5 separate regions of the Homo sapiens genome follow, and all the other regions are linked to region 5. Evidence: fine-mapped expression QTL. A gene starts in region 5. Each other region holds a variant in brackets. All regions are shown on one strand. Distances are between the middles of the regions.

Region 1 (5,104 bases), 56 kb before region 5:
CTATAAGGTCGCTGTTGAACATCCTAGCAGTTCTACAAGGTCAGCCAATTTTTTTTTTAACTTAAAAATCAAAGAAGAAAAGGTTATGTAACTAAGCATGTTACATGGTTTGTGGTGATTGTAAATTCTGTGAAAATTGACATTGTGGTCAGTAGTGGCTTTTTTTTTTTTTTTAATGGAGTTTTGCTCTTGTTGCCCAGGTTGGAGTGCAGTGGTGCGATCTCAGCTCACCACAACCTTTGCTTCCCGGGTTCAAGCGATTCTCCTGCCTCAATCTCCCAAGTAGCTGGGATTACAGGCATGCGCCACCACGCCTGACTAATTTTGTATTTTTAGTAGAGACGGGGTTTCTCCATGTTGGTCAGGCTGGTCTCGAACTCCCAACCTCAGTTGATCCCAAAGTGTTAGGATTACAGGTGTGAGCCACCACACCCAGCCAGTAGTGGCTTTTTAACCTCTCAGGCTGGAGTACAGTGGCACGATCACGGCTCACTGCAGCCTTGACCTCTGGGTTTCAAGCAGTCCTCCTACCTCAGCTCCCCAGATAGCTGAGACTACAGGCACGCACAACCATACCTGGCTAATTTCTGTATTTTTTGTAAAGGCAAGGTTTCACCATGTTGCCCAGGCTGGTCTCGAACTCCTAGCCTCAAGCGATCCTCCCACCTCGACCTACCAAACTACGAGGCCTTTCTCAAAAAAAGAAAATGATAATATCCTGTTGTCATTCATTCAGCTACTATTTAGTAACAGCAAAGAAACAACAACAAATAAGTTATAATCACTGTTTTGAAGAAGTTCTGTAGTCTAGTTGAAGAAACAGTTGTTTGTATATAATTATGATTTGACTTCTGGCAGAATAGTCAACCATCTATTCCAAGGAGTCATTTTGTTATAAAATAACTACATCCTTGACAAAACTTAAGCAGAACCAAAAACAGTGGATGTATTAGAATGGCAAAGCTAACATTAACCAGCATGCCGATAACATTAATACTATGTGATTTTGGCATTTAAACTAGGCTCTGGAGAAGGGCAAATGTGCTCTTGTGTAATTAGCTCCCCCTGGCTTCTGAGATATAGTTGTTCTATATGAACACATTTTCTGTTTAGGCCACAAGGAATCCCATAGGTTAAAAACAAACGTGCTCACAGTGAAAGATCTCTGAACACACAGAAAAACAGACCACCACAATTGACAATCCATCGATTTAGTTCCTTCCCAAATGAGTTTCAGAGATTGGAATTATCAGACAGAATGTGTAGAGTAATGTATATGAAATGTTAGAGGAAGATTAAATGGAATAACAAAATGAACAACAGGTAAGATATTTGGACAGATGGAAAAAAATAATCTATAGGAACTCTTGAAAGAGAATACGCAAGAATGTAGTTCTGAAGACATCAGAATGCAACAGGAGAAATAAGGAGTGGGGAAAATGAAAAATGAAGGCCAGCCGTGGTGGCTCACACCTATAATCCCATCATGTGAGGCCAAAGTGGGAGAATCACTTGAGCCCAGGAGTTCAAGACCAGCCTGGGCAACAGTGGGACCTCATTTCTATAAAAAAAATACAAATTAGGCAGGTGTGGTGGTGTGTACTTACAGTCCCAGCTACTCAGGAGGCTGAGGCGGGAGGATCATTTGAGCCTGGGAGATTCTGTACAAAAGGAGAGAACTTTTGAGTTCTTTAGAAGATAACACTGTCTGGCTGGGCGTGGTGGCTCACGCCTGTCATCCCAGCACTTTGGGAGGCTGGGGCAGGCGGATCACCTGAGGTTGGGAGTTCGAGACCAGCCTGACCAACATGGAGAAACCCCGTCTCTACTAAAAATACAAAATTAGCCGGACCTGGTGGCGCATGCCTGTAATCCAGCTACTCGGGAGACTGAGGCGGGAAAATCGCTTGAACCGAGAGGTGGAGGTTGCGGTGAGCTGAGATCGCGCCGTTGCACTCCAGCTTGGCCAACAAGAGCGAAACTCCATCTCAAAAAAAAAAAGATAACACGGGCTGAGAACACCCTAAAAGTGATGAAAAATATGAATCTAAGATAAAGGAAGCAATAACATATACTAAATAGCATAAATAAAAATTTTATACCTAGTTATTGTAATGAAATTATAAAACAAGCAGTTTTAAAAGCATCCAGAGTTTACATCTACTAGGGTAACTATAATTCAAAACAAACAAACAACTAGAAAATGACAAGGCTTAGAGAGGATGTGGAAAAATTGGAACCCATTTACATTTCTTGTAGTAATGTAAAATGGTGCAGTTGCTGTGGAAAACAGTTTGGTGGTTCCTCAAAAATTAAACATAGAATTACCACATGATCCAGCAGTTCTACCTCTAGATATATACCCCAAAAGAAATGGAAACAGAGACTTAAACAGATATTTGTATAGGCATGTTCATAGCAGCATTATTCACAGTAGTCAAAAGGAAGAACAGTCTACATGTTTGTCAGTGGATGAATGGATAAACAGTGTGATGTATACAAACATGGAATATTATTCAGTCTTAAAAAGGAAGGATTTTTTTTTTTTTTTTTTTTTTTTGAGACGGGGTTTTGTCCTTGTTGCCCTGGCTGGAGTTCAACAGCACAATCTCGGCTCGCTGCAACTTCCGCTTCCCGGGTTCAAGCAATTCTCCTGCCTCAGCCTTCTGAGTAGCTGGGATTACAGGCGCGCGCCACCATACCCAGCTAATTTTTGTATTTTTAGTAGAGA[CAG/C]GGGTTCACCATGTTGGTCAGGCTGGTCTTGAACTCCTGACCTTAGGTGACCCACCCATGTCAGCCTCCCAAAGTGCTGGGATTACAGGCGTGAGCCACTGCGCCCGGCCAAAAAGGAAGGAAATTCTAATACATGCCGCAGCATGGGTGAACTTTGATGACATTATGCTAAGTGAAACACGCCTGTCACAAAAAGACAAGTATTATATGATGCCACTTACATCAGTCACCTTCAGTAGTCAAATTCAGAGACAGGAAGTAGAATCATGGTTGCTGGAGAAAGGGGAGAATTGGGAGTTATTGTTTAGTGGATATAGTATACCAATTTGGGAAAATAAAGTTTTGGAGTTTGGTTGCACAACAGTGTGAATGTACTTAACTTTTGAACTGTACACTAAAAAAATGGTTAAGGTGGTAAATTTTACGTGTATTTTACCACAATTTTCCTTAAAAAAGGAATGACATTACACTTTCTTCTGGGTGATGGAACAAGACCCTAAATCTTAAAAAAAAAAAAAAAAAGAAAGAAAAGTCTGATAAATGCTACAAAATGGTTGAACCATGAAAACATGCTGAAATAAGCCAGACACAAAAGGACAAATATTGTATGATTACATTTATCAAAATACCTAGAATTGTTAGGTCCATAGAGAGAGATTAAAGGTTATCAGGAGCTGGGAAAAAGAGATAAGGGGGAGTTATTGGTACAGAGTACTGTAGTCTGAATATTTATGTCCCCCCGAAATTCATATGTTGAAACCTAGTCCTTAATGTGGTAGTATTAAGAGGTGGAGCCTTTGGGAGGTGATGAGGTCTAAGGGAGGTAGTGAAAAATTTTGGAAATAGTAGTGAGAATTGCACAACATTGTGAATGTAGTTACTGCCACTGAATTGTACATTTAATGGCTGAAATGGCACACTTTATGTTACATATATTTAATCACAATAAGAAAATGATAAAAAAAAAAAAGCCAAAAAAAAAAAAGATCAGTATAAAAGGACTACAATTAAAGAGTAATAATTGGAGCTGCGCATGGTGGCTCACACGTGTAATCCTGACAAGTTGGGAGGCTGAGGTGGGAGGATTGCCTGAGCCAAGGAGTCTGCAACCAGCCTGGGCAACATGGTGAGATTCCGTCTCTAAAAAAACATGAAATTTAGCCAGGTGTGGTGGCATGTGTTTATAGTCCCAGCTACTCAGGAGGCTGAGGTGGGAGGATCACCTAAGCCTGGGAGATTAAGGCTGCAGTGAGCCGAGATTGCACCACTGTACGCCAGCCTGGGGGACCAGAGTGAGACCCTGTCTCAAGGTGAGGGGGTTGGGGGAAAAGTATAATTGGAATGATTGTAACACAAAGAAATGATATATGTTTGAGGTGATGGCTACCCTATTATATACTCTGATGTCATTATTACACACTATATCAACATATCTCATGTACCCCCAAAAGATACATACCTACTATGTACCCATAAAAATTTTTTTAAATTTTTAAAAAGGACTACAATTAAACTGATGACAGACTTCTCAGCAGCGGCAGTGGAAGCCAGAGGCAGTTGTGAAAAATATTTTTATAGCATTGATAGAAAGTAGCTGTCAGTGTAGATTTGCATACAAAGCAAAACTACTTTCAAGAACCAGGAAAACATAAAGACAGAAACAAAAACAGAAATTTACCATCAACAGACAGACCCTCTCTCTCTCTGTCTGTATATATAATATATAATATATATATACTATATATACACACACACACACACAGACATAATTTTTTTTTTTTTTTTTTTTTTTGAGACGGAGTCTCGCTCTGTCACCCAGGCTGGAGTGCAGTGGCGCAATCTCAGCTCACTGCAAGCTCCTCCTTCCAGGTTCATGCCATTCTCCTGCCTCAGCCTCCCGAGTAGCTGGGACTACAGGCGCCCGCCACAACGCCCAGCTAATTTTTTGTATTTTTAGTAGAGATGGGGTTTCACAGTGTTAGCCAGGATGGTCTCAATCTGCAGACCTCGTGATCCGCCCGCCTCGGCCTCCCAAAGTGCTGGGATTACCATAGTTTTTTTTTTAACCAAGAAGCACTGAACCATCACCAAACTTCTAAATAAGTTTTACACTGGGAAGTTAGCAATATATATAATATGTATAATATATGTAATATAATATACATAATATGTTATATATATGTTATATATACATAATGTTATATATAGTTATATTATGTGTATATGTACATATGTATGTATATATAGTGTGTATACACACACACACACACAGAGGCATATAATTTGTTTTTTAACCAAGAAGAAGCACTGAACCATCAATAGACTTAATAAGTGAGTTTTACTCTGAGAAGTTAGCAATAAGGATGGTGAG
Region 2 (5,104 bases), 44 kb after region 5:
GTATTTTTAGTACAGATGGGATTTCACCATGTTAGCCAGGATGGTCTCAATCTCCTGACCTCTTGATCCGTCTGCTTCGGCCTCCCAAAGTGCTGGGATTACAGGCGTGAGCCACTGCGCCTGGCACTTGTAATTATTAATATTTATTGAATGATGGTCTTTGTCTCAGGGCTATTTGCTCCACCAGAGCAGAGACTATGACAGGCATCCCAGAGCCTAGCCCAATGACAGGCACAGGAGCCACTAAATAAATAGCAAAAAAAAAAAAAAAAAAAAAAATCAAAGGATCTAGAGCACAGGTGGAGGGAGAAGCAGGATAAATCCGTGAAAGGTGTGAATTGAAATATGTGCAGCTGGGCTTCTGCTATCACATGGAAACTTTAAAGCTTAATGAATCATTAAAGAAGGGTTGGAATGACCATTGTGGGAACGGGGTGTGAGTGTTTATCTGGTACAGTAAGAGCTGCCAAGTAGTGTTAAAGGCCCAGCTGGGATTAGAAACCATACGTGTGCATTGGCAGAAACCAGCAGAATTAGAAGATTTCCTCCAGCAGCGTTCAGCCATCTGAGTGTGGGAGAGAAGCTGGGTAATTAGGTCAGCCCCAAAATGGGGGCTTGGTGGGCAGGCTGCTGCCTTTTGTTCCTTTCTCAGATGAAGTAAATGAAAATAGATGTGGAATTTTGTTTTCCTTGTCCCCAAAATGAAACCTTGTAGAACTCAAAGGCTTGCCCTTTGGCCCTAGACTGGAGCCAAAAAGGCTGAAGCATTTACCCCAAACGTCTTCCCCTATGGCCTGCTTGCCTAGCAGGGCCCATGGAAAGATTTGTGGGGATCTGTGATTTTTTTTTTTTTTTGAGGTGGAGTCTCGCTCTGTCACCCAGGCTGGAGTGCAGTGGCGCCATCTCGGCTCACTGCAAGCTCCGCCTCCCGGGTTCACGCCATTCTCCTGCCTCAGTCTCCCGAGTAGCTGGGACTACAGGCGCCTGCCACCACGCCCGGCTAATTTTTTGTATTTTTAGTAGAGACGGGGTTTTCCCATGTTGGCCAGGATGGTCTCGATCTCCTGACCTCATGATCCGCCCACCTCAGCCTCCCAAAGTGCTGGGATTACAGGGGTGAGCCACCGCGCCCAGCCTGTGAATTTCTTAAAGTATGCAAAATGCGGTGTGTCTGTGTGTGTGCATTTTTCTGGGGCGAGTATCTGTAGCTTACATCAAATTCTTTAAAGGGTGATCCAGAAAGACAAGAGCCCCTAACTTGGGTCAGCTCTTGGATCCACTGCTGTGGATCAGGGCCTGACTGATGGGCAGTTACATCCCTGCCTATTGACAAGGGGCAGTGTGGCACAGAGGTAGATGTGCAGGGGCCTGGACTGCACCACCTCAGGGAAGCTACTTAGCTCCTCAGTTTTCTCTTCTGTAAAATGGGAATGATAATCCCAGTTCCTTATTTCAGAGGGCTGTGAAGATTAAGTTAGATAATACATGCAAATGCTGAGGCCATGCTGGGTACTTAGTAACGGCTGGGTACTTACTAATAGGACGCACATTTAAGAACAAAGACTTTGAATCGGGAGGCAGCAGCTGGGGGAGCACAGTTACAGACAATTTTTTTGCTAAGCACAACATCTGATCATTCTCTCCCCTCTGATACTGTGTGGTCCCATGCAGGTTCCTTAATCACTGCCTCAGTTTCCTTATCTGTAAAATGGAGATGATAACAGTAACTGCCTCATGGTTTGCAGGGACTCTCTGAGGCCGGTGCTCACTAAGTGCTGGTTATTATTGCGATTTTTACTGCCCAGGGCCCAAATTCAGGCTCCTCATCTTGATAAGAAAGGCTCTTCCCACCAGGCCTTGCCCCGCACTGAAGCCGTCACAACCCAGCAGGCACCTTCACACTGTCTCCAGTGTCCAGTGGCTCTACGGGCCGAAGCACTGAGCACAGAAGAGAGCGAGTGACCAAACGGAGGCCCGCAACACCCGCGCCCTTCCTCAGAGTATTCCCTTCCAAGAGTGCCCTCGCCCTTCCCTTCCCAATTTCCATCTATAGATATCCAGCTTTTGGTTCAAAGCGGAACTCCAGAAACCACACTGTCCATAACGCCTTCCTAATTCCTCTCATCAGAAGCCCCTGTTCTGAGCCAGTCATGTGGCATATGCAGTTCTCAGGAACAACACACCTCAGTTCCCTAACTGCACTGCAGCCTCTGGGGACAGGCCTGGCCCCATCCTGTTCTTTTTACCACATCTGTCACCATCTTTGCACAGAGAATACCTTTGGTAGAGAGCTCTTGAACAAAGGAAATGAAATACTCAATGATTCCACTATTCCAAGGCATTCACACATCTAAGGGAAGGGAGAAAGAATCCCCAAATGACTGATCTGTACACTAAGAAACTGATTATACAAATGAACAATGGCCAGACCATATATTAAAATACAACTCTAGGCTGGGCACAGTGGCTCATGCCTGTAATCCCAGCACTTTGGGAGGCCGAGGTGGGCGGATCATCCGAGGTCGGGAGTTAGAGACCAGCCTGACCAACATGGAGAAATCCCGTCTCTACTAAAAATATAAAATTAGCCTGTAATCCCAGCTACTCTGGAGGCTGAGGCAGGAGAATTGCTTGAACCTGGGAGGCGGAGGTTGCCGTGAGCCGGGATCTCGCCACTGCACTCCAGCCTGGGCAACAAGAGCAAAACTCCATCTCAAGAAAAAAAAAAATACAACTCTCACCCACAGCCTGCGGTCACTTGCTGGGGAAACTAACTCATTATCTGCAACAATTAACCTGGGAGGTCTTCCTGCTCTAAATCAGGC[C/T]TGCAAGAAGCCAGATTGCTATCTCTAGTGACAATCCAGGAAGCTAAACAATAACCAATAATGTCTGTAACAATCAGCCCCAAATGGCCAGAATTTGATTAGTAACTGACAGTTTCCTTAATTTTGTCCTCACTTTAGGACCAACCAGGGAAAGCCAAAAATGCACCCCTAACCAAGCACACAGGATGCCCTGCTTCTAGTTAGCCCATGCACGGGCAGCTTCCCCACACCAACAGCCTCCAATCAGGGCACACCTGAAGCCTTCACTTTCCTCAGCTATAAAGGTGTCCCACTCCTCTGCCTGCCTTCGAAGCTCCGTCAAAATGCAAGTGCAGATGGCTGACACCCTTGCTCTGTCGCCCAGGCTGGAGTGCAGTGGCACGATCTTGGCTCACTGCAAGCTCCGCCTCCCGGGTTCACGCCATTCTCCTGCCTCTCAGCCTCCCGAGTAGCTGGGACTACAGGTGCCCACCACCACGCCCAGCTAATTTTTTTGTATTTTTAGTAGAGACAGGGTTTCACCATGTTAGCCAGGATGGTCTTGATCTCCTGACCTCCTGATCCACCTGCCTCGGCCTCCCAAAGTGCTGGGATTACAGGCATGAGCCACCGCACCCGGCCAGCCTTTGCTTTTTTAAAGTTGGTTTTCCTTTATTTCCACAAGACCCAGGAACGAAAGCGCAGGGAGCAGAGGCTGGACCGTCCTCTGTCAGTTCCCTCGTTCCCCTGGAGTGGAGCTCTGAGCCCTGGGACCACAGAGTTGGCTGTTACACTGGAAACACTGATCAGACCTTTGGACTCAGCTGAGGTAAGGCTGGAGAAGCCAATTGACTCAGATGAAATACCCCAGGCATAAAATCACAAAAGAGTTTTTGTTAGATGCTGGTTGGGAGGGAGTGGCTCCAGAGATCTGGGAAAAGAGCAGGCCGGCCGGCAATAGAGACATGAGGGAAAGGCAGGAACTTTGCCTAGAATGGGGGCCAGGGGTTGCCAGCACCCGCCTTGGTGGGACAGAGAATTGAGTCAAGATTCTTATCTCACCTCCACTATGATCCTTTTTTCATTCCACAGATATTCACTGAGTGCATAGTGTGTGCGCCAGGCCCTGTTCTGGGAGATGACAGGCAAGGCCACTGACTTCGTGGAGCTCGCCCCCTAACGGTGAAGACAAACAGTGACTGACTAAGGAAAAAAAAAAAAGGTAATTTCAGAAGTGGCAAGTGCCCTGAGCAAAATAAACTAAGATGGTGCAACAGAGAAAAAGGGTGCTGGGGGGTGGGGACACATGCCCCTTTCTAATGCTGCTTCTTGGAGGAAGGTATCTGTGCTGACACCCTAGCAGCCAGGAGCCAGCAGTGCAACTAGAGAGGAAGAGCTTTTCCAGGCATGGGGAACAGCTTCGGCAAAGACCCTGAGGTGGCCCAGGATTGACATGTCCAATAAAGAACAGAGAGGCCAGTGTGGCCAGAGTAGCAGTAATAGCGTTGGGATGAGGCCAGGGAGGAGGCTCACGCCTGGCCAGGCATGAAGGGCCTTCTTGGCCATGTCAAGAGTTTAGATTTCATTTTATTCAAAAAGGCACTGAATGGCTAGCCTGCCTCAGCCGTTTTTTCAGGGCCTTAGAAGAGCTGCTTTGCCAAGCTCCTGTCAGGATTGCAGCAGAGGGCACCCGTGGGTGTTGAGGGACGGCCTTGAGGGGATGGAGTATAGATCAGCCTCACTGCTGTAAGCCACAACTGAACCCCTTGCTGAGTAGGGCAAGATGGGCCACATCGAGTGTGGAAACTCCGAAACTCTATGCTAAATGTTTTTTGTGTATACCTATCTTAGGAAGAGAACCAGAGCTTTTTTTTTTTTTTTTTTTTTTTGAGATGGAGTCTCACTCTGTTGCCCAGGCTGGAGTGCAGTGGTGCAATCTCTGCTCACTGCAACCTCCGCCTCCCAGGTTCAAGTGATTCTCCTACCTTAGCCTCTTGAGTAGCTGGGACTACAGGTGGTGTGCCACAACACCCGGCTAATTTTTGTATTTTTAGTAGAGATGAGGTTTCGCCATGTTGGCCAGGCTGGTCTCAAACTCCTGACCTCAGGTGATCCACCAGCCTCATCTTCCCAAAGTGTTGGGATTACAGGCATGAGCCACCGTGCCCAGCCTGTTTTTTTCAGATTCTAACTCCTAAGCACTAAGAACCCAGAGCTTTTATCAGCCTCTCAGCAGAGTCTCTGTGACCAAAAAAGATAGAAAAAGGTGAATAATGACACCTGTGCTTCCATATGCATGG
Region 3 (5,104 bases), 190 kb before region 5:
CTTTTCGCTGATAACCAAGTTAATTTTCCTAGAACAGTGCTTTGCATATCATATCCTATTCAAATTCTTCAATGGCTCTCGAATGCTTTGAGAAGAAAGTCCAAAATCTTTAGTCACAGTCTCTATTTTTCCCTGTGCTCCCCTGCATGATCTCTCTGTTGCAGGTTTTTGTTTTGTTTTGTTTTGACTCCTGAACACTACACCTTTTTGCCCCTAAGCTCTTGTTCATGCTGTTCACCTTGCCAAACCTTTCCTGCTTCTGTTATCTAAACCCTGCCCTCTTTCAACGACTAACTCAAGTCCATCCTATCATTCTTTCTGTTAAACATGATCTATACACTCAGTGTTTGGCCGTTTACTCCATTAAATGGAATCATGTACATAAAATACCTAGTGCAGGGTTTGGGGCCTGGTGGGGTGGCTCACACTTGTAATCCTAGCACTTTGGGAGACCAGCCTGGACAACATAGTGAAACTATTAAAAATACAAAAAATTAGTCTCTACTAAAAATACAAAAAATTAGCTAGGCGTAGTGGCATGTCCCTGTAATCCCAGCTACTCGGGAGGCTGAGGTGGAAGGATCACCTGAGCTCAGGAGGTCCAGGCTACAGTGAGCTATGATGGTGCCACTGCATTCTAGCCTGGGCAACAAGAGTGAGACTCTGTTTCAGAAAAACAAAAACAAAAATAAAAAACACCCACCTAGTACAGGGTTTAGTATATAGTAGGCTCTCAAAAATGTTACTCTCCAGCTGATCCAATGGTAGTGGTTAACAGAACTTATTAACATCAGTTCCTGTCTCCCTTCCTTTCTTTCAAAGTATCTTCATATTTTTTTTCTCTTTTTTTTTTTTTTTTTTTTGGAGACAGAGTCTCGCTCTGTCACCCAGGCTGGAGTGCAGTGGCACCATCTCAGCTCACTGCAACCTCCACCTCCAGGGTTCAAGTGATTCTCTTGCCTCAGCCTCCCAAGTAGCTGAGACTACAGGCGAGCGCCGCCACGCCCAGCTGATCTTTTGTATTTTTAGTAGAGACGGGGTTTCACTGTGTTAGCCAGGATGGTCTCGATCTCCTGACCTCGTGATCCACCCGCCTCAGCCTCCCAAAGTGCTGGGATTACAGGCGTGAGCCACCGTGCCCGGCATATCTTCATATTTTATTCTATTTGATTCCCATGACAAATTTCGTGAGACTGAACAGGGCAAAATTAGTCCCATTTTAGAGATGAGGAAATAGAGTGAGTCTGGCAAGGGCCAGATAGTAAATATTTTAGGCTTTGTAGGCTTTATGTCTCTATTGCAACTACCCAATTCGGCCATCGTAGCCCAAAGCAGCCATACATAACACACAGTCAAATAAGCATGACTGTAGGTCAACAGCCTTATTTACAAAAACAGGTGGAGCAGGATTTGACCTGTAAACTGTAGTCTCCAGACCCCTGGTTTTAAATGACTTCTTCAAGGTCATAGGCCTGATGAGTATTAGAATTGGGATAGAATCCAGATCTCCCAACTTTGAAGCCAGTGCCTTTCACCACATTATGCTGTGGCATATTTTATTTATTATTTGTTTGTTTATTTATTTTTTGAAATGGAGTTTCACTCTTGTTGCCCAGGCTGGAGTGCAATGGTGCGATCTCGGCTCACTGCCACCTCCGCCTCCCAGGTTCATGTGATTCTCCTGCCTCAGCCTCCCAAGCAGCTGGGATTACAGGCATGTGGCACCACGCCTGGCTAATTTTGTATTTTTAGTAGAGACAGGGTTTCACCATGTTGGCCAGGCTGGTCTCAAACTCCTGACCTCAGGTGATCTACCCGCCTCAGCCTCCCAAAGTGCTGGGATTACAGGCGTGCGCCACCGCGCCTGGCCCTATTTATTTATTTATTCATTTTTAATTTTTTGAGACAGGGTCTCACTCTATTGCCCAGGCCAGGGTGCAGTGGTGTGATCAAAGCTCGCTGCAGCCTTGACCTTCCAGGCTCAGGTGATCCTCCCCCTCAGCCTCCCAAGTAGCTAGGACAACAGGCCATGCCACTACACCCGGCTAATTTCTATATTTTTTGTAAAGACGGAGTTTTGCTTTGTTGCCCAGGCTGGTCTCGAACTTCTGGGCTCAAGTGATCCGCCTGCCTTGGCCTCCCAAAGTGCTGGGATTACAGGTGTGAGCCACCGCGTCCAGCCCATATAATTTATTTTGCATTTATTATATACTACTTTGTTTTAGTATCTTTTATGTGGTCCTAGTGGTCCAGGAGGCACTAGAGTGGTATCAACAGTATCTGACACAGAGTAGTCATTCAGTGAAAGTTTGTTGACAAGCATAATAATGTCCCAATCTAGTTCTATTTCGTTACTTTGGACCTGGCTTACTCTGAGGTGGGCTTAAGTGTTAGTGTAAGTTATTAGCATCAACTGATGATGCACACGTCTGTGTCTGTGTCTGTGTGTGTGTGTGTGTGCGTGAGCGTGCGCGCGCACTCTCTCTCTAAGGGAGGTACGTTTTCCTACAGCCATTAGATGTTAACTTACGTGAATAACCATAAATGGATATGTACAGGTAGCATACAAATAGGAGGACGGGTGTCTCCACAGCGAAGAAGAAATTTAAAAGGAGGTTTTTCAGTAGGTCTCA[T/C]TAGCACGAAAAGGCATAGAAGCTGACATAATTTTTTATTCTAAACCCTGCAGGTGTTTCCCATATATCTTTATTGATTTCACTTTATGTAGTTAAATTAGTGGGAAGATGATATAGGAAACTCACAGTATGTTTATTTCTTTTCCTTAGCACTTAGGCAGATGACGTGTATGAATCAATCTATTTTTCGTCCGGAGAGCAGATCTCAAAGAGTCTGTCCTTTCCAAAGAGAAAACAGGAAGCATCCTCAGGAAGCGCCTACTTCTCTTGTTTTCCATCGAGAAAGAGAAATGGCTCAAATATTTATCAAGGATTTCACAGGATTAAGGGGTATGAAATTGGGCTGACCTTCTCAGAGGCCGAAGGACTTCGACTCCATGAGAGGGCGAGAAACGTGTTTCGGGGGAATTTAAGTCAATGAGTATTTTGCTTTGTCAGGTGTAGAGTCCAGGCCCGGGGAAGAGAGGCAGTCAACAGAGGCCAGAAAGGACGTTGCTATGGTTTCCACGCACGTTGTCTCCCTCGGCCTGTTTCTTTGCGCGGCGCTGGCGATTCCGTAATTTCCGCTTCCGGTAGTGAGAACCCTTCCGGTGGGCTAGGTACTGAGCGCGCGAGGTGAGGAGTTGTGCAGGGTTTGGGGAAAGGAAGGCTGGCTTGGCGAGAGGGCAGGTTTGCGGGCTTTCGCCCCCTTTTCCAAAGACCAACAAAGAGTCCTTCCCCAACTCCCAACTCAACCCCTTTTGGAACTATGTGTGGTGGTTGGGACCCTGTGGCGCATCCTTGTCGCTCGTGTCCTTCTCATGCCCGGCGACGCGTCTTTGTGGTAACGCCCTGCTGCCATCTCTTTTCTTCTCTATGCGAGGATTTGGACTGGCAGTGAGAATAAGAGACAACGATTCACGTCTACTTTCTAGGATGACTTCCATGTGCTCCATCTCGCGCGTCCCTGAGCATGTTGAATTTCCAAATCCTAAATAAGCCGCGCGGTGTAGTTTGTATTATGTTGCGTTTCTCTTTCTGCTTTCCTCGCCCTTTCTCCATCATCCTTTAGGCTCTACAGAGTGAAGGTTTAAATCCAAGGTCATGGCAAAACATCTGAAGTTCATCGCCAGGACTGTGATGGTACAGGAAGGGAACGTGGAAAGCGCATACAGGACCCTAAACAGGTAACTGTTAAGGGACCAGAATCATGCCTAGACTCTCTGGGAAGTGCGGTGGTTATTCTCTCCCTTCCCCTTTCGTTGATTGTTCTCAAAACAGTGCCAGCCCAGGTGTTCACAGTCTCTTAAAACGTCTCAGCCCCTCAGTTTATTATCTTAAAAATGAAGTTCTGGGCCGGGCGCGGTGGCTCACGCCTGTAATCCCAGCACTTTGGGAGGCCGAGGCGGGTGGATCACATGCGGTCAGGAGTTTCAGACCAGCCTGGCCAACATGGTGAAACCGTGTCTCTACTAAAAATACAAAAATTAGCCGGGCGTGGTGGCAAACGCCTGTAATCTCAGCTACTCGAGAGCTGAGGCAGGAGAATCGCTTGAACCCGGGAGGCAGAGGTTGTAGTGAGCCAAGATCGAGCCACTTGCACTCCAGCCTGGGCAAGAGTGAGACTCTATCTCAAAAAAAAAGAAAAAAAGTTCTTCCTCAAACCTAACTGTATGAATTGTATTCAACAAGTAATCACCCCCCGCACCTCCCCGCTTTTAATTTTAATTTTAATTTTTTTTTTTTTTTTTGAGGCAGAGTCTCGCTCTGTCACCCAGGCTGGAGTGCAGCGGCACGATCTCGGCTCACTGCAAGCTCCGCTTCCTGGGTTCACGCCATTCTCCTGCCTCAGCCTCCTGAGCAGCCAGTACTACAGGCTCCCGCCACCACGCCCGGTTAATTTTTGTATTTATAGTAGAGATGGGGTTTCACCGTGTTGGCCAGGATGGTCTTGATCTCCTGACCTCAAGTGATCTGCCTGCCTCTGCCTCCCAAAGTGCTAGGATTACAGGCGTAAGCCACAGCGCCCGGCCCCGCTTTTTAAAAATTGAGACAGGGTCTTGCTGTGTCACTCAACAATCCTCCTGCCTCAGTCTCCTGACTAGCTGGGTCTAGTGACGCACGCCACCACCGCAGTTAATTTTTGTATTTTCTGTACAGAGGGAGTCTCGCCATGTTGCCCAAGCGTAATGACTCCTTTTATGAGGAACCTGAATTCTTTAGAAGACTTAAAAAAGAGCCCAAATGGAAAATCAAGATGTGAAGTTGCTAGGAAGCGGGAACGTAGTATGATAAATAGAAAGCTGAGGGAGTGATTGGTGTGGGACAAAGCTAAAGGAAAAGGTGAATTCAGATTGGCATCCTAGAGAAGCAGGCAAAAGATGGGAAAGCTCACTGGGTGGGATGACTCACACCTGTAATCCTAGCACTTTGGGAAGCCTAGTGGGGAGGATTGCTTGTTGCCAAGAGTTCAAGACCAATCTGGTAAACAT
Region 4 (5,104 bases), 210 kb before region 5:
TTTATAGTATGTGAAGGGGACTGTTTTCTGTTTTAGGAGTTCCTGGATTGAAAGGGCACGGAGTAACAGGCCTCATTACAGATATGGATCCCAGAAGACTGAGAGGGGTGTAGAGGTGCACAGGCAAGAAAGGAGTATGACTATTGGAGGAGAGAGAGAGAGAGAGAAAAGAAAGAAAGAGCAAGAAAGCTGGGAGCGCTGAGGTCATCTCCAGGTGTCCTTTTGTTAGTAAGGTGTTCCAGATGTCCCTTGACCTCTAGTCCTTGTCCCCATAGGACAAGAATATGAGGATGAAGAAAGACTGGGAGAGGATGAATATTATCAGGTGGTCTATTATTATACAGTCACCCCCAGTTATGGTGAGTACATGAAAGGCTCTTGCCCTTAGCCAACTGGAGAGAGGCTTCAGGATATTTAGTTCTGAGACTTTGCTCTTCACTTTGAAGCAGAGCAATGGGGTCAGAGAAAAATCTGGCTATGAACAAAACCTATCAAGACTCATGATGGGGCCGGGCGTGGTGGCTCACACCTGTAATCCCAGCACTTTGGGAGGCTGAGGCGGGCGGATCACGAGGTCAGGAGATCGAGACCATCCTGGCTAACACAGTGAAACCCTGTCTCTACTAAAAATACAAAAAATTAGCCGGGTGTGGTGGCGGGTGCCTGCAGTCCCAGCTACTTGGGAGGCTGAGGCAGGAGAATGGCATGAACCCGGGAGGCAGAGGTTGCAGTGAGCTGAGATCGTGCCACTGCACTCCAGCCTGGGTGACAGAGCAAGACTCCATCTCAAAAAAAAAAAATGAAAAAAGATTTATGATGGGCTGGGCGCAGTGACTCATGCCTGTAATCCCAGCACTTTGGGAGGCTGAGGTGGGTGGATCACCTGCGGTCAGGAGTTTGAGACCAGCCTGGCCAACATGGTGAAACCCTGTCTCTACTAAAAATACAAAAATTAGCTGGGCATGGTGGCACCTGCCTGTAGTCCCAGTTATTCAGGAGGCTGAGGCAGGAGAATCGCTTGAACCTGGGAGGCAGAGGTTGTGGTGAACTGAGATCACACCACTGCACTCCAGCCTGGGCGACAGAATGAGACTACGTCACAAAAAAAAAAAAAGACTCATGATGATGTTATTTTTCCAGATAGTGATTTTTAGATGGGAGGATTGCTTGAGCCCAGGAGTTCAAGACCACCCTGGACATCATAGCAAGACCTTGTCTCTATAGAAAAAAAAATTTTTTTTTTTTGAGACCAAATCTCATGCTGTCACCCAGGCTAGAGTGCAGTGGCACAATCTCAGCTCACTGCAACCTCTGCCTCTCGGCTTCCAGCTATTCTCTTGCCTCAGCCTCCTAGGTAGCTGGGACTACAGGCGTGTGCTACCATGCCCGGCTAATTTTGTATCTTTAGTAGAGACAAGGTGTCACCATGTTGGCCACGCTGGTCTTGAACTCCTGATCTCGTGATCTGCCCACCTCAGCCTCCCAAAGTGCTGGGATTACAGGCTTGAGCCATCGTGCCCGGCCAAATTTTTTTTTTTTTAATTAGCTGGGCATGGTGGCACATGGCTGTAGTCCCAGCTACTCAGGAGGCTGAGGCAGGAGGATCACTTGAGCTCAGGAGCTGGAGGTGGCAGTGAGCTATGATTGAACCAACTGTACTCCAGCCTGTTAACACAGTGAGACCCTGACTCTAAAAAAAGAAGAACTTGAAAATTTTTCAAATTTGTAAATTATTTTAGATACCTACATTGAAAATATAAATGCATACACATTCACAGTCATTTTTAACATTAGTTAAATAAAATTGGATTATACCAATAAATGTTACAACTTAAGTTAAACTATTCTGAGTAATTTCTTCCCTTTTCATTTCCAGATCTAGAGTTACATTTTTCTTTAATTATTACTGATTTTCTTTCTCCTCTGCAGATGACTTTAGTGCAGATTTCACCATTGATTACTCCATATTTGAGTCAGAGGACAGGCTGGTGAGTGAACTCTACATCTAAAAGGGTTAGGATAAGTAACAATTAAAAAGAAACTGGCCGGGCGCAGTGGCTCATGCCTATAATCCCAGCACTTTGGGAGGCCAAGGCGAGTGGATCATTTGAGGTCAAGAGTTTGAGACCAGCCTGGCCAAAATGGTGAAACCCCGTCTCTACTAAAAATACAAAAACATTAGTTGGACATGGTAGCATATGCCTATAATCCCAGCTACTCAGAAGGCTGAGGTAGGAGAATCACTTGAATCCGGGAGATGGAGGACGCAGTGAGCCAAGATCGTTCCACTGCACTCCAGCCTGGGTGACAGATCCAGACTTCATCTACAAAAAAAAAAGAAAAAAGAAAAGAAAAGAAACTGGGCAATGTTGAAATGTATCTGATTAACAAGAATAAAAATGAGTTTGATGAGGAGAAACTAAGTAGTAGGCCCAAAACAGATTTGTTAACCTATCTGGGGAGGAGAAAAAAGCCAGAACTTTATAAATTGTCCTCAGTAAGTTTGCTAAGACACTGAGGAGGGGCATCAAGGGACTTTTGAATGAGATGGGTACAAATCTATGCAAGCATAGGGTAGGGGGGAATCCCTGAGCTTAAGTCTTTGGGCTGGGTGGAGGTGGTGAAGGGGAGAACTTTAAGTAGAGAATCTATGAAGATGTTGGATGGAAAAACTGATAACTCTGTGTTTCCCAAATCCTACTGAGGGTAGAACAGGTTGGATAAGGACATAACAGAAGCAATAGAGACTACCATTAGTCTTGAAACAGCACGTGCAGACCATCCGAAGCCTGTAACTGTGAAACCAGTAACAACGGAACCTGTGAGTTGATTGGGGATTGGGGGCTGGGGGGAGACAGGACATCCCTAGTGACGTGGAATA[C/A]ATAGAGGGCTGGAATACCAGGCTTTGGTGGATGGGAGAACCAAATAATTAGTACTTCATTGCAGGTATTCATCTCAACTTGGCCATGTTTCACTAAGATTTAATACTAACCCTGTTTACAGAACACTGGGAAGATATGGTACAGTTAAATTTCAGTTCAGTAGTATTCAATAGGTATGTAATCTATGCCTAAGGCTGCTAAGGTAACTGATGCTGATAAAAAAGAAATCTATGTTACTGTCCTCAAGGATTTATAAAATTCAAGTTTACGAAACACTTAGAACAAAATGAAAAGGTATGTTATGATGTTAAATTATATATAAATTTGAAAGCAGAAGATACTGGCAGTGCTTTAGCCAATGTAAGAAGAGAGATTAGTACAGGCTAGAGTTGTCTGAAAAGCTTTCAAGAGGCATTTGTGCTTGAGATACACCCTGAAGAATAGATGAGCTTTTGATTGGTGGGTAGTTATGGAAGGACAGAAGCAATTAGGAGGAAGAATAGTTATTCCAAGAGTGAAAGAGGCCAGGTATGGCGGCTTATGCCTGTAATCCCAGCACTTTGGGGAGGCCAAGGTGGTCGGATCACTTGAGGTCAGCAGTTCAAGGCTAGTTCAATGGCCAACATGGTGGAAACCCCATCTCTACTAAAAATACAAAAGTTAGCCAGGCGTGGTGGTGCGTGCCTGTAATCCCAGCTACTTGGGAAGCTGAGGCATGAGAATCACTTGAACCCGGGAGGCAGAGGTTGCAGTGAGCCGAGATCACGCCACTCTACTCCAGCCTGGGCGACAGAGTGAGACTCTATACTAAAAAAAAAAAAAAAAAAAAAAAAAGAGTGAAAGAGCTGCACAGGAGGGGGGAATAGAACAAGCATAATATGTTTAGCAAATAGGGTATGATTGAAGGAGAGGGTATATGGAAGGGAACAGTGGGAATTAAGAAAAATATAAAATTTACAAGGCTCCTAATACTTGCTTAGTAATTTCACATGTGGCAACATAGGGGCAAATTTCAGAGAGTCTCAGGTGTCAGGCTGAAGTCTGGACTCATAATCAACAAGGAGCCTAGTAAGTTCTTCATTATGGTAAAAACACGATGAAAAGTGATATTTTAGAAAAACCGGCCAGGTGTGGTGGCTCACGACTGTAATCTCAGCACTTTGGGAGGCTGAAGTGAGCTGATCACCTGAAGTCGGGAGTTCGAGACCAGCCTGACCAACATGGAGAAACCCTGTCTATAGTAAAAATACAGAATTAGCTGGGTGTGGTGGCACATGCCTGTAATCCCAGCTACCTGGGAGGCTGAGGCAGGAGAATCGCTTGAACCTGGGAGGCGGAGGTTGCAGTGAGCCGAAATCGCGCTATTGCACTCCAGCCTGGGAAACAAGAGTGAAACTCCATCTCAAAAAAAGAAAAAGAAAAACCACTCTTCAGGTTGTATGCAGGATGTAAATAATTTAGTGGAAAGCAACTCATGAGATTTGCGTTGTTCCAGAAACAATCTGTACTCTGGCATTATGAATGGAGAGGAGAAAAATAAATATTATGAAGAAAATACCTTGCTTGAGTGATAATTTTATATGAAGTATAAATGAGGAGTGAGTTAAAATAACTCATGGGTTTTAAACATGGATGTCTGGGAAAATGGTTGACCAAAGTGGGAACTATGGGAGGCCAGAGTGGTTTAGGACAGAAGTTATTAATTTGGTAATGGCCAAGCTGAGTTTATGGTGACAGCCCTATGAGGGTGTCCTAAAGGTCACTGAACTAGATCAGGGCTAGAGTTCTAAGTGCAAAGTCACAGATATGAAAGTAAATGAGCTCAACAGAGCCAGTACACACAAGCTCAGAAGGCCAGTGACTGTGCCTGTAGTGAGTGGGAGGAAGAGAAATTAATGAATGGAATGGAGAAGGATTTGACTGGAGAAGTAGGCAGATAGCCAAGTTTGTATTATAGAGTCTAGAAGAGAAAGTTTAATATAATCCATCAAAAGCTACCAAGAGGCCAAGGAGGAGGAGGTCACTTGTAACTCTCAAGAAAGTAGTTTTAACTGAGTGCTTGGAGAAAAGCTAGATTTTTGTGGAGTTAAAGAGTGAGTACATTATGAGGAAAGGGAGGTGAGTACAGACCAACCATCTAAAAAATCTGGTAATGAAAAAGAGAAGCAACGGCTGGAAAGGGGAATAGGACCAAAGAGCAGCCTGCATATAGTTGAGCACAG
Region 5 (5,104 bases):
GCACCCAGCTCACTGCATTGCACACAGTAAGCAGTTAGTAAATGAGAGCATCAAATCAATACCGTGATTGGTACATACTTGATTCAATAATTATTGGGCACCTACCATTTTGTTGCCTGCAATACACCTTTCCCCTTTTGGTGCAGAGGCATGAGAAGAATTCTGCCTGTTGCCACCCTTTCTGAATGCCATTTAAAAATTCTTAACTACCTTCTCCAAACCACACACACACAAGTTATCTTCCTCTCCCACACTCTTGTCTCTTTCTCTTTGTATTTCAGGGTGTCTACCAGAAGATGGACCCAAGATCCATGGAGGCTCCTGTGACTCAGATCAACTGCCCTGCCCGGGAAACCTGGTCTCTCCGGAAACCTTGATTAAACTGCTTTTTCTGACACCTCTTCCTCTACAACCCTTGATTCTATCACCATTGAAACTTCAGAACCAACTCTAACCATCCCCACCTCCAGGTGAGGGGACTAATGAGAATTACTGACAGCCTGATGGCTACCCCCAAGTCAGTTTCCCTTCATACTTTACTACAAATCTGACCATGTTCCCATATTTACTGAGTAAATTTGATGAAATTTACCTAGTCCTGTGTCCTAGATGTATCAGGGAGAGGGAAGAGAAAGGATAAAGGAAGTTGAGAGCTGGGATAGGAATTAGAGGCAAAGGGCTTATGTAGGGAGCAGAGAGCTAAAATTCTAGTCAGGCACCTCTTTCTGAGGTGATGGGGGAGTATACTGGGAGCAAACTCTTCTAGAGAAAGCATGGTGTGGTAAAAGAAAACCAAGCTTGGATTCAGAAATCACCATCAGCACTTGCTGTTTGACCTTAAATTCCTCATCTGTCAGATTAAAAGGTCTCGGCCGGGCATGGTGGCTCACGCCTGTAATCCCAGCACTTTGGGAGGCTGAGGCAGGCGGATCACCTGATGCTGGGAGTTCGGGACCAGCCTGACCAACATGGAGAAACCCTGTCTCTACTAAAAATACAAAATTAGCTGGGCCTGGGGTGGCACATGCCTGTAATCCCAGCTACTCGGGAGGCTGAGGCAGGAGAAGCGCTTGAACCTGGGGAGGCGGAGGTTGCGGTAAGCCGAGATCACGCCACTGCACTCCAGCCTGGGCAACAAGAGTGAAACTCCATCTCAAAAAAAAAAAAAAAAGATTAAAAGGTCTATAAAGTCCCTATTAAGCACCATGAGTATAAAGGGACTCAAACTGACCTCTGCAGATTCTTGATTCCAGCTTTTTTGTTTTTGTTTTGTTTTGAGATGAAGTCTCGCTCTTGTCCCCCAGGCTGGAGTGCATGGCGTGATCTCGGCTCACTGCAACCTCCACCTCCCGGGTTCAAGCGATTCTCCTGTCTCAGCCTCCCAAGTAGCTGGGATTACAGGCGCCCACCACCATGCCCAGCTAATTTTTGTATTTTTAGTAGAGACGGGGTTTCACCATGTTGGCCAGGCTGGTCTAGAACTCCTGACCTCAGGTGATCCACCCGCCTCGGCCTCCCAAGTAGCTGGGATTACAGGCGCCCACCACCACGCCCAGCTAATTTTTGTATTTTTAGTAGAGACGGGGTTTCACCATGTTGGCCAGGCTGGTCTAGAACTCCTGACCTCAGGTGATCCACCTGCCTCGGCCTCCCAAAGTGCTGGGATTACAGCGTGAGCCACTGCGCGCGGCCATCTTTGCTCCAGCTTTAAAGTGGTTACTCCAGAGGCTGAGGTGGTCAGTTGAGCCCAGGAGGTCGAGACTGCAGTGAGCCATGATTGTACCCCTGCACTCCAGCCTGGGCAACGGTGAGACCTTGTCTCAAAATTAAAAAATAAAACTGTTACAGTCATTTATCATAATAGCTTCTTGTTGCTTTTGCCCATTACCAAAAAACCATGGGCCACACTAGACGATTTACATAAAATTTAACTCAACAATTGGGAGCAACACTATTCTCATTTTATAGTTGAGAAAATTGAGGCTTAGAGAAATTAAATAGGTCAGGCAAGGCGGCTCATGCCTGTAATTCCAGAACTCTGGGAGGCCGGAGCGCGGTGGCGGTTTGGTGGGGGGGAGGGGAGGGATTGCTTGAGGCCAGGAGTTCGAGACTACCCTGGCCAACATAGTGAGACCCGCCCCCCCCTCCCGCCCCCCCCGGTCTCTATTAAATAAATATGAGAAGTTTAATAATTTTCCCAAAATTACATAGTTAATGGCAGATCCAGAATTTACACTAGGTCTGTCTGGTTCCCCAGTCTATGCTCTTAAGTTTTGCTACTTGCTGTAAGGACCACGTAAAATAAAATGTATAGTTAAAGGGAAATTACTACCATTTCCTGTCTGGTTTTCTCCCACTCTCGCCCTCAAAAGTTCACCTGCCCTTGTCCTCAAAGCCACAGGACGCCTAATTGCTATTTTTGGGTTTCAGCTGAAACGCCACGGGTCTGGGGGAATAGCGAGGGTGTGTTACATTTTCGGTCTTCCGGTCAGCCGGAACCACTCACACCGCTGCTGGTGCTGTGTAGGGTGTACCTCTTCGGAGTTCCTGGAGGTGGTGCCAGACTAGAGTGGCAGCTGTAGTAACCAATAGACACGGACTTTGTTGGACCAGAAGCCAATGAAGAATTACGTGGAGGAGAAGCGGCGATAATCTGTTTGAGGATGTAGGCACTGGTGTGAAGGAACATGGCCCTGTATCAGAGGTGGCGGTGTCTCCGGCTCCAAGGTTTACAGGCTTGCAGGCTACACACGGTGCGTGAGGCACCCCCAAAGCTCCGATCCGCATCAGACTTAGCCCAGCCGAAGCCCCCAAATTTTTATGTTAACCCAGCCTCACGCCACTCCTCCTCTCCCTGGTCCTCCGAGTCCCCAGAAAAGGACTCGTATCTAAACTCGTTATCTAATTCTCGAGTTAGCGGTCTGGGGGACTCTGAGCTCGAAGGACCCCCAGCCTAGGGTCTTGTATCACCCAATCCCCTTAAAAAGTAGGAATTCGGACGAAGTCCACTTAACCATCCCAAAGTGCCATCATCTGCAATTCTAAGAAAGAATGATGGGACGTGTGTTACCTGCTAATATATCTTTCCCTCCAGGCAGTTGTGTCGACCCCTCCACGCTGGTTGGCAGAGCGGCTTGGCCTTTTTGAGGAGCTGTGGGCTGCTCAGGTAAAGAGATTAGCAAGCATGGCACAGAAGGAACCCCGGACTATTAAGATATCACTTCCTGGAGGCCAGAAAATTGATGCTGTGGCATGGAACACAACCCCCTACCAACTAGCCCGGCAGATCAGGTAACAGGCCCATCCTGTAACTACCAGGATTATCCTTCTGCCCCTTTACTTTCTCTTCACTTGAGCAGGGGAAGAAAACTTGGTCTGCTTGTTTCTGTTCCGTCCCCATTAAGATAGCCTTTCCTGAAGATTTTGTTTTTGTTTTTTGTTGTTGTTCTTTTATACAGACGGGGTCTCTCCATGTTGCCCAGGCTAGTCTTGAACTCCTGGGCTCAAGCGATCCTTCCATCTCAGCCTCCCGAAGTGCTGGGATTACAGGCATGAGCCACCAAACCCGGCCTGAGATTTGTTTTATCTGTATTAGTTTCTGCATCAGAGTCTCTGTCCTTTCATTGGGGAAAGAAATGAAAGCTTCTGTTGCTCTGGTAACTCATTTCACCTTTGCAAGTTTACAGTTGCTGAGAGATGAGCAACTTTCTCCCCACTGTGGATTGTAACCCTGTCTGTTTTAAATCATTAATTTACTTTTTAATAATTGATACATAATAATTGAACATATGAATGGGTATATGTGATATTTTGATATATGCATACAATATGTAATGATCAAATCAGGGTGTTCAGGATATCTGTTACCCCAAACATTTATCATTTCTTTGTGTTGGGACTATTTCAAATCTTCTAGCTATTTTGAAATATACAATAAATTATTATTAACTGTATTCACCCAACTCTGCTATGGAACATTAGAGCATATTCCTTCTGTCTAACTCTATTTTTGTACCCATTAGCCAACCTCTTCATCTCCCCTCCCCCATCCTTTCCAGCCTCTGGTAACTATCACTCTATTCTCTACCACTGTGAGATCAACTTTTTAAACTCTCATATAGGAATCAGAACATGTGATATTTTCCTTTTTGTGCCTTGTAACCCTGTCTTTTTCTTCATCCCCACCTTCCACTGCTGAAGTTCAACACTGGCAGATACTGCAGTGGCTGCTCAAGTGAATGGAGAACCTTATGATCTGGAGCGGCCCTTGGAGACAGATTCTGACCTCAGATTTCTGACATTCGATTCCCCAGAGGGGAAAGCAGTAAGTTTCTTTCTTATCAGGAATACAGTGACTACTAAACCAAGAGATATTGAAGCAGGAAATTCTAACATTTTATTCTTTTGCCGCAGTTTCTCCATTTGCAGTTGGGAGGGAGACCTACCACAGACTGTCTTGACTATTTCTGGTTAGGAAACTTATGGTGAAAGTTTTTAACTTAGCTTCGATCTATTAAGCAAACATTTGTGCTAGTGAGAGGGAGAGAGATGATATGTTGAAAAAACGAAAGGATAAATATGTAAATTCAGCCCCCTCAACTCTTGAGCACGTACATTATAAGTCATCTGTAGTGTATATTCAATTCTAACATGGCTTATACAGCTGAGCAAACAACCTGGTCACCTCCCCACCTTGTCTTCTTCATGTCAGCTCAGGTAGCACAGACCTTGCCTATTAGGATCCAGAAAAATAGAGTTCTCCTGCCATCTATGTGTAAATAGTGACCAAATCCAAGAGGAATATATCGCACTAGATTCGTGGGACAGAAAAAAATAGGACTAAAAGACCAAACAGAGACCTAAGTAACCACTGTGTTAAGAAGATAGCTTATTCTGGCCAGGCACAGTAGCTCACGCCTGTAATCCCAGCACTTTGGGAGGCCGAGGCAGGTGGATCATCTGAGGTCAAGAGTTCAAGACCAGCCTGGCCAACATAGTAGAAACCCCGTCTCTACTAAAAATACAAAAATTAGCTGGGCGTGGTGGTGAGCACTTGTCATCCCAGCTAATTGAGAGGCTGAGGCAGGAGAATTGCTTGAACCCT

Which allele goes with the higher level. Positions count from the first base shown, and alleles are read on the strand shown. Sizes are in standard deviations (SD) of each study's normalised expression. Not every link is listed here.
As copies of A replace C in region 4, the expression in hypothalamus of the gene that starts at base 2,656 in region 5 goes up (small effect, 0.28 SD a copy in GTEx).

Evidence for each region.
Region 1: its variant is fine-mapped to the expression of TARS2 in whole blood (TOPMed, PIP above 0.99).
Region 2: its variant is fine-mapped to the expression of TARS2 in unexposed skin (GTEx, PIP 0.95).
Region 3: its variant is fine-mapped to the expression of TARS2 in whole blood (INTERVAL, PIP 0.94).
Region 4: its variant is fine-mapped to the expression of TARS2 in hypothalamus (GTEx, PIP 0.92).

The regions. Positions count from the first base shown.
Region 1 is chr1:150,428,938-150,434,041 of GRCh38, forward strand. The region is part of intron 2 of RPRD2 (regulation of nuclear pre-mRNA domain containing 2); the gene reads left to right. Among named protein-coding and RNA genes, the nearest start is that of TARS2, 56 kb to the right of the region's middle. The variant CAG/C (reference allele first, on the strand shown) is at 2,732.
Region 2 is chr1:150,528,761-150,533,864 of GRCh38, forward strand. FALEC (focally amplified lncRNA regulator of ECM1) reads left to right here. Exons shown (of 6, transcript NR_186305.1): 4 at 3,490-3,633; 5 at 3,897-4,026. Among named protein-coding and RNA genes, the nearest start is that of FALEC, 16 kb to the left of the region's middle. RefSeq lists an enhancer at 3,970-4,960. The variant C/T (reference allele first, on the strand shown) is at 2,826.
Region 3 is chr1:150,290,651-150,295,754 of GRCh38, forward strand. It overlaps MRPS21 (mitochondrial ribosomal protein S21), which reads left to right and starts at 3,211. Exons shown (of 3, transcript NM_031901.6): 1 at 3,211-3,248; 2 at 3,685-3,799. The coding sequence starts at 3,717. LOC105371434 (a long non-coding RNA gene) reads right to left here and starts at 3,170. Exons shown (of 2, transcript XR_922129.4): 1 at 2,982-3,170; 2 at 2,650-2,847. RefSeq lists an enhancer at 3,499-3,558. The variant T/C (reference allele first, on the strand shown) is at 2,634.
Region 4 is chr1:150,273,812-150,278,915 of GRCh38, forward strand. It overlaps C1orf54 (chromosome 1 open reading frame 54), which reads left to right. Exons shown (of 6, transcript NM_024579.4): 2 at 276-359; 3 at 1,930-1,988; 4 at 2,711-2,821. All of the region lies in intron 1 of LOC124904414, which reads right to left. Among named protein-coding and RNA genes, the nearest start is that of C1orf54, 3.6 kb to the left of the region's middle. The variant C/A (reference allele first, on the strand shown) is at 2,882.
Region 5 is chr1:150,484,764-150,489,867 of GRCh38, forward strand. It overlaps TARS2 (threonyl-tRNA synthetase 2, mitochondrial), which reads left to right and starts at 2,656. Exons shown (of 18, transcript NM_025150.5): 1 at 2,656-2,753; 2 at 3,095-3,291; 3 at 4,201-4,324. The coding sequence starts at 2,688. LOC124904416 (a long non-coding RNA gene) reads left to right here. Exons shown (of 2, transcript XR_007066600.1): 1 at 1-26; 2 at 282-591. RefSeq lists enhancers at 2,481-2,987, 2,481-2,750.